Linked DNA regions of Homo sapiens. The protein of the gene in region 1 interacts with the protein of each later gene in a pairwise test. Each region holds a gene or a part of one and is shown in the gene's direction. Other genes may lie near its edges. The genes, in order: BLID and PAX2.

Region 1 (3,197 bases):
TTCTAGCTTTCTCAGTAGATTATGAGTCTCTTTTATAAAAATGGTATGCATTATTTATTCTTCATATTCCATGTCTCACATTATAATAAATTTTAAAAACTGTTAAATTGAATAGATTTGCCACAAAGTACAGAAAATTAGTATTCTATAAACTCAAAGAGAAGAGGCCAAATAGAAATCTGGAAAGCATTCATCAATAAAGAGAGGAAAAAAACATTGCAAAGTTCTTACTATATACCAGATCTTGTGATAATTTATATTCCTTCCCTCATTAATCCCCCAAATAATTGAGCAAAGAAGATATTATGGTCCCCATTTTACAAATAAAGAATCTGATGTTCAGTAAGGTTAAGTACTCTGCCCAAGTTCAGAGTTATTAAGCAGCGGACTTTGGTTTGAAATCTATATTGAATGATCCCATTATCCACATCCTTACTTTTATGCATTCAGTTTTCCACAAGACACTTGATGGAATTTCTTATACTACCTATAAATTTTGCTAGAGTAGAACATTCTGTGTTCCCCCTAATTGAATGTTACAGGCCCCTCTGTAAATTTAGGAAAGTTCCAAAGTGTTCCCTGGATACTTGTTCTGCCTCTAGCATGAAATGTACAAAAGTAGCAGAGAAGATCCAAACCAGACTTTGCTCTCAGAGTAGGCTGCATAACTCCCTCTTGTCTTCTCCACTGGTCTACATCAGTCTTTTGTCTACAACCCTGACTTTTTTAAAAATGGTATTGGATGCTACCATTATGGTTATGGTTAACTGGGGGCATCATTGGTGCCTGAGTTTCTACTCAAATAACATAAGGGAAATCAAGAGACCAAGGCCATGATGACTCAAGCAGTCTCCATGGCTTGGTGGTAAAGGAGTGAATCCTTCCTTACAGCTGATCTTGCCTTTGTATATGTCACATATTGGTCCTGATTAGAAAGGTCTATAGGCTAATTTGTGCAAGACACATTCCTTCTCATTATACCATGATACAGGCCATGTGAAACACCAGATTCAATCTTATAGCCTCTCTGCTGCTGCTAAGTAAGAAACTTCTACTTTTAGTGTCTTTTCTCTCTCAACACAAAAATACTCTGTAAGTCACCCAGATCTGGGTTGCCCATGATTACCAGGCTTTTCCCAATTAGAAATATGACTCATGTTCCATTTTACCAATACATCTCAGGCACAGAACTAGCAAGGAAAGACAAAATTAAAATGTTTCTGTAATTCCAGCCCATCAATTGAAACAAGATGTTTCTGAACTTTTCCCAATGTGAAGAACAAAAAGTAATAGCATTTTGTTTATTTATTTGTGTACAACACTGTGGTCAGGAACTTGTTGCTTCCCCAGGGAAATTGCTTGCAAGCATCACTGAGAAGAGGACTTAACAATTCACACTGATCATTCCCTGTGGTCTGCCATGGCGAGGGTGATACTTTCATGTTTTATAAGCACCAGACAAGAGAGCTGGATCAATTTTCTCTCTCGATATTCTAGTCTCTGTTGAAACGACTCCCTCAGACATCAGCAGCTCCGGGTTCTTTCTAAAAAATAAAGTAAGTACTCTTAGGTCTGTTCACAGTAAGGGACAAGAAGTCCAAAACATATCCCTGCCTTTTACAATTCAGAAATCAACGTGGAGATCTTTCCTACTTTTAGGCAGTACATACAGCTTCGCTGAGGTCTGTGTGTCAAACTTACTGAGAGGAGGACATCGTGGAGACTTATCGTTAATTAGCAATGCTTATGCATGCAAACCTTGGTCAGATGATGTTGTGTTTGGAGAAAAGAGAGAAGAGAATTGAATAAGTACATGACCCCTTGGAAGCTGTTTTCAGTTGAGGATTTTGGTGAGTAGCCACTTGAAATCAAGGGAAATTCCATGAATAGCAGGAGCTGGGAAGAAAGGAAGAGGAGGAAGGATCCCACCACTTTTTTCTTCCCATCTAACACCGTGCTTATGCAAAGCATAGTCCATATGAGATCTGCCTTATAAAAACTTGCTGAATAAAGCGAATGGAAGTTAAATTTTGGACTTTCTTCCATAATAGCTTCAAATTATGGTGACTTTGTTGCCTATAGAGGGCCAGGAAATACATTTCTTTGAGATCCTAGAATCTGAGTGTGTGCTCTACACAGGATGGATAGAGCGAGCCTCTGGCAGTTCCATTTATCCAGAGGCAAAAGCACGCCTGCCACTGGAGGCGCTCTTGGGTTCCAACAAAGAACCTATGTTGCCTAAGGAAACAGTGCTTTCTCTTAAAAGGTACAATCTTGGCTCCTCTGCCATGAAGCGGAATGTTCCTGGACATGTGCTTCAGAGACCTTCCTATTTAACCAGGATACAAGTTACATTGTTATGCAATTCCTCTGCTGAGGCCCTGTAAAAGGAGTGAGTTAGGACAGATGCAGCAAGATATTAGGACAGATTTCGCCCATTATTCAGGCTGCACAACACAGAAGGAAACTTGATTTCAATAAGACCCAATTCTTAACAGTCTTTTCTACCCACTTTTACCCATAACTTTTCCAAATTTGGTTCAAATTGTGCAGAGAAACAATAAAATTTTTAAAAAGGATAAACTGGCTAGTTAAAAGTAAATGGCATTTAATTAAAACAAATCTTGCAAATTCATGAAAAAACAAAAAGCTATGTGATGGTAAACCTTAGGGCAGCGTACAGTGCCACTGTCCTTTGCAGTTTTGAGTGTATTTCATTTGTACATTGGAAGTAGGTACTTGTCATATTATTAACAATTACTCTACTTAGTTGTACACTCAGCATTTGGCATCAGAATAATCTTGTGTAGTCACAGGGTTTTCATTTTCTTTCTGTATTTTTTAAGCATGTTTCTGAGTGGTGGTTCACATAAGCTTTCAATTTTAAATAACACAATCCATTTATTTCACTAGGCGTCTTTATTTGCTTAAAGTGAAGAATCAGAGATTGTCATTGTGTTGTAAATAAGTCTAACCTTTCTTTCCCTTTACAAAAAAAAAAACCTGTGGAACTGAAAGAAATAGAAATTCCAGTAATCTTTTATGAACTCTGTTATTAGAGTGAGTAGAACTAAATCTGTGGGGAAAAAAGGAAAAGGAAATGGAAAAGGTGTTTCAGAGCTTTTACTTTAAGCTATTCTAGTGTCCCCTTCTCTGCTTTCTTTCCACTACCCTGACCCATACCTACCCACAGTGAG
Region 2 (3,821 bases), on another chromosome or scaffold:
AGTATCCACTCCTTAGGCCTCTTGTCTTTTAAACACTCCTTTCCCCGGTCCCTGACAGTCTCCTAAATCCATACCTCTGTGTGCCTGCTGATGCAGGGGCATTGCCCCTGGACGCTCCTCTTTCACCTCAAATGCTGCACATCTAGGACCAACATCACCACTTCCCTCCAAAACCAGTCACCTCCCTATAGCCTTATTCCTGACCTGCTGATGTAAACTCCACCAAGCTTCCAGTTACACAAATCTGAGTTTGTAAAACCATGGTTGACTCCAGTTGGTTGCCAAACTCTGACCATTCTGCCTTCCTCTTGTCTTGCAAATTCTTCCCTTTCTTTCCTGAGACCAGCTCCCTATCGCCTCATGCCTCATGTATATGTATGTTGCTTTACTGGGATCTGTTTGTAGAGATCCCCCCTAGTTTAGAAATCACTCATGGCTTAAGGCCCTCTAAACCTGGTTCCTACATGTTGGGGGCAGGATGACAAAGTAACAAAAAGCATAGATTTTAGAGGCTGCATTCTGAGTCTTCCCTAATTGGTACTGTGATTTTTTTTTTTTTTTTTTTTTTGAGACGGAGTCTTACTCTGTCGCCTAGGCTGGAGTGCAGAGGCACAATCTCAGCTCACTGCAACCTCCGCCTCCTGGGTTCAAGCGATTCTCCTGCCTCAGCCTCCTGAGTAGCTGGGATTACAGGTGCATACCACCACACCTGGCTAATTTTGTATTTTTAGTAGAGTTGGGGTTTCACCATGTTGGTCAGGTTGGTCTCAAACTCCTGACCTCGTGATCTGCCTGCGTCGGCCTCCCAAAGTGCTGAGATTACAGGCATGAGCCACCGCATCTGGCCTTTTTTTTTTTTTTGAGATGGAGTCTCACTCTATTGCCCAGACTGGAGTACAGTGGCTTGATCTTGGCTCACTGCAACCTCCGCCTCCCGGGTTCAAGCAATTCTCCTGCCTCAGCTGCCTGAATAGCTAAGATTACAGGTATCTGCCACCATGCCTGGCTAATTTTTGTACTTTTAGTAGAGTCGAGATTTCACCGTGTTGGCCAGGCTGGTCTCAAACTCCTGACCTCAGGTGGTCCACCCGCCTTGGCCTCCCAAAGTGCTGGGATTACAGGCGTGAGCCACTGCACCCAGCCAGTAGTGTGATCTTGAGTGAGCTACTTAAACTTGTCTCAGCTTTGGTTTTCAATTTGCAAAATGAGGATAATAGTCTCTACTTTGGAGGTGGTTGTGCGAATTAACAGTAATATATATGTCATATAAATTGTGTATAATATTGGCACATAGTAGATGTTCAGTAAGTGGAAAATGGTGATGGTTCTCATCACATCCAAGTTTTCATTCTTGTTTCCTCTTAGTCCCTTGCCTGTCTCCACTCATTCTGGCTGACCACTCTGGGCATTAACCCAGAAGGCAGCAGGCTCGCGTGGCTTCCGCTTCCACCAGCTTGTGATGCCCTCCCCTCTACTTCTTTGTTCATCTTAGGATCAAGTTATTTTTTACTGGGGAAAGAGACAGTGGAGATCCTGTAGTCCAACCCCTTCATTTAAAGCTGAAGAAACTGAGGCCCAGAGAAGTTGAGAGGTGAGACCAAGGCTATGTGGCTTCTTAAATGCAAAATCAGAAGCAGGACTCAGGGCCCCTGCCATGCAGCCCAGTGTCCTTTCCGCCATCCTCTGTGCCTCTGATTTCAGCCCTACTTGGCTTTGAAGATCTACATCAATTTCCCTCTGTTCAGCGACTTCTTCCGCAGTTCCCTCTCCTGCAAGGGGAATGGTTCCTCTCCTCCAAGTTTCCAGCACTAACTACCTGATTCCCTCGGGTAACTGAGCTTTTTTGGGGATTAAGTCTCCCCTCCCCACCTTCATATCCAGCACTGTGAGCTAGGGGCCTTATCCCAACTGCCTGCAAGTGTTCAGGAAAAGCTTTTAGAGCTGACTTGCTCATGGCTTGTGACTCACCTGGCTGGTTGAGGTGAGCTTGGCTCACATGCCTCTCTGTGGGGACAAGGAACGCTATCAGAAAAGTGGCTTCCAAAGGCCCCTCATTTGACCAGTGGGTAGGGGGAGCATTCCTCCGTCTTGGCCCTGGGACTGGTCTTTGGCATCATTGAGCCCTCGGTTTTTCAGATCCCTGAAAAGCAGGCTCCTGGAATGTTTGATTTGGCCCCTTCTCCCCAGGATGTACAGGGAGGGCACCAGACCTTTCAACCAGGCTGGCAAAGACGCTGCAATCCAAGTAAGAACCTCAGAAAAGGAGGCCAGCAAACCAGCCAGCCATATAGGAACAGGGCTCTGACTTGTTTGAGGGCAGTAAGTGGGCTCAAGAAGAGATTGTTCAGCCTGACATCTGGCAAAGGGACTGTGTGCTGTGTTGGAGTCCTGGGGACAAAAGAAAGGGTCACCTGTGACCCAGCCCCTCCCTGGCTACTTCTCATTCTTTCAGGATATGGGGAAATCTCATCCTCTCAACTCTGAAGGACTGTGACACAGTCCCAAGTAGGAAAGCCAGCTCCAAAATGATCTCAAAACCCAGGAGGTCCTGGTACCAGGAAGAGATGCGTGTGTGGTTGAGGAGAGAAAGGTGGACAACAAGCCACTAGGGCAGTCCTCACCCTGCAGAAAAAGAAAGGATGCTGTGCTCACTGGGTCTCTGCCCTGATCTTTGCTACCAAAAATCAAACAATAATTTGGGTGATGCACATAGCAGGACATAAGGCAGGCTGCATTCACCCAGAGCTGCATTACGTTGGATCTGCGGAGCCAACAGAAGGAAAACCCTGTGCCTTGCAGCAGTCAGTGAGGGCAGGGACACAGGGAGCAGATGGATGAGGAAATCGCTGAGGAACTTGGGAGAGAGCCCCTTTGCAGGGCTGGGCTGGAATTGGCCGGGATAGGAGTGGGCATTTGATGTGTGATGCTGTTGTGACGCTGTTGCAGAATCATCCGGACCAAAGTTCAGCAGCCTTTCCACCCAACGCCGGATGGGGCTGGGACAGGAGTGACCGCCCCTGGCCACACCATTGGTAAGAGGGCTCAGGGAAGGGGAGGAAACCAGATCCCACCTAGAGAAAGGCAGGAAACGCAGCTCCACCCCTGGGAACTGCCTGCCCGCTTGAGGTCCAGAGCCCAACCTATTTGCCAACTCCTCTCACCTGAGCTCCTGTCCACATAGGGTCTTCCTGAGAGATACTGGTTCTCTAGGACTGTTCTCTGCCTCCCACTTGTGTCACCTCCCTCTGCCCTGCTTTAGTCAGTCCCTATCCTCTCCCCTCCTCTCCTCTCTCTTAAGTGTTTTTCTTCTAGCATTTCTTCTTCTTTTTCTTCTTCTCCTCCTCCTGCTTCCCTCTCCCTCATTCTCCAACATCTTTTGTTTTTATCTGATTCTGTCTCCCTACCTGTGCCCTCTTTCTTTTATATCAACTTTCTTATTCCATCTTTGTTTAACATTCCATCTTGTTCTTAACATTGTCCTCTGTCTTCTCCCCTTGGCTCCTCTTCTTTTCTCCCTCTGCCCTTCCCTCTCTTCTCTCTTCTTCTTAGGTGTAGCTCTGGCTCTGTTCTGTCTTCCTCCTTCCTCATGGCCTCTTTCCTCTTGGCCTTTCTCTCTTGATTGCTCAGCCTCTGTCTCACCCACTCTGTATCTCTCATCCTTTCTCCATCCTCCTCATTCTTTGAGCCATGCTTAGGGCCTCTCAAAGACGTGACCCAGGCCTACTAGAACACCTGCTAACACTCCTCCTCTGTCCCCAACGCACACAGACTAGCTTCCCTCTGGCCCAAGGAGAAACTTGGTGCTACTGTAGCCATAGATG

Evidence for each region.
Region 2: the proteins of BLID (region 1) and PAX2 interact in a two-hybrid assay, tested with the Homo sapiens proteins (one large-scale study listed by BioGRID and IntAct).

The regions. Positions count from the first base shown.
Region 1 is NC_000011.10:122,114,786-122,117,982, reverse strand, and holds BLID (BH3-like motif-containing cell death inducer), read left to right. Parts: upstream 1-1,767; 5' UTR 1,768-2,060; coding exon 2,061-2,387; 3' UTR 2,388-2,643; downstream 2,644-3,197. UniProt on the Homo sapiens protein: Functions as a proapoptotic molecule through the caspase-dependent mitochondrial pathway of cell death.
Region 2 is NC_000010.11:100,776,552-100,780,372, forward strand, and holds part of PAX2 (paired box protein Pax-2), read left to right. Parts: intron 1-2,946; coding exon 2,947-3,032; intron 3,033-3,821. UniProt on the Homo sapiens protein: Transcription factor that may have a role in kidney cell differentiation. Has a critical role in the development of the urogenital tract, the eyes, and the CNS.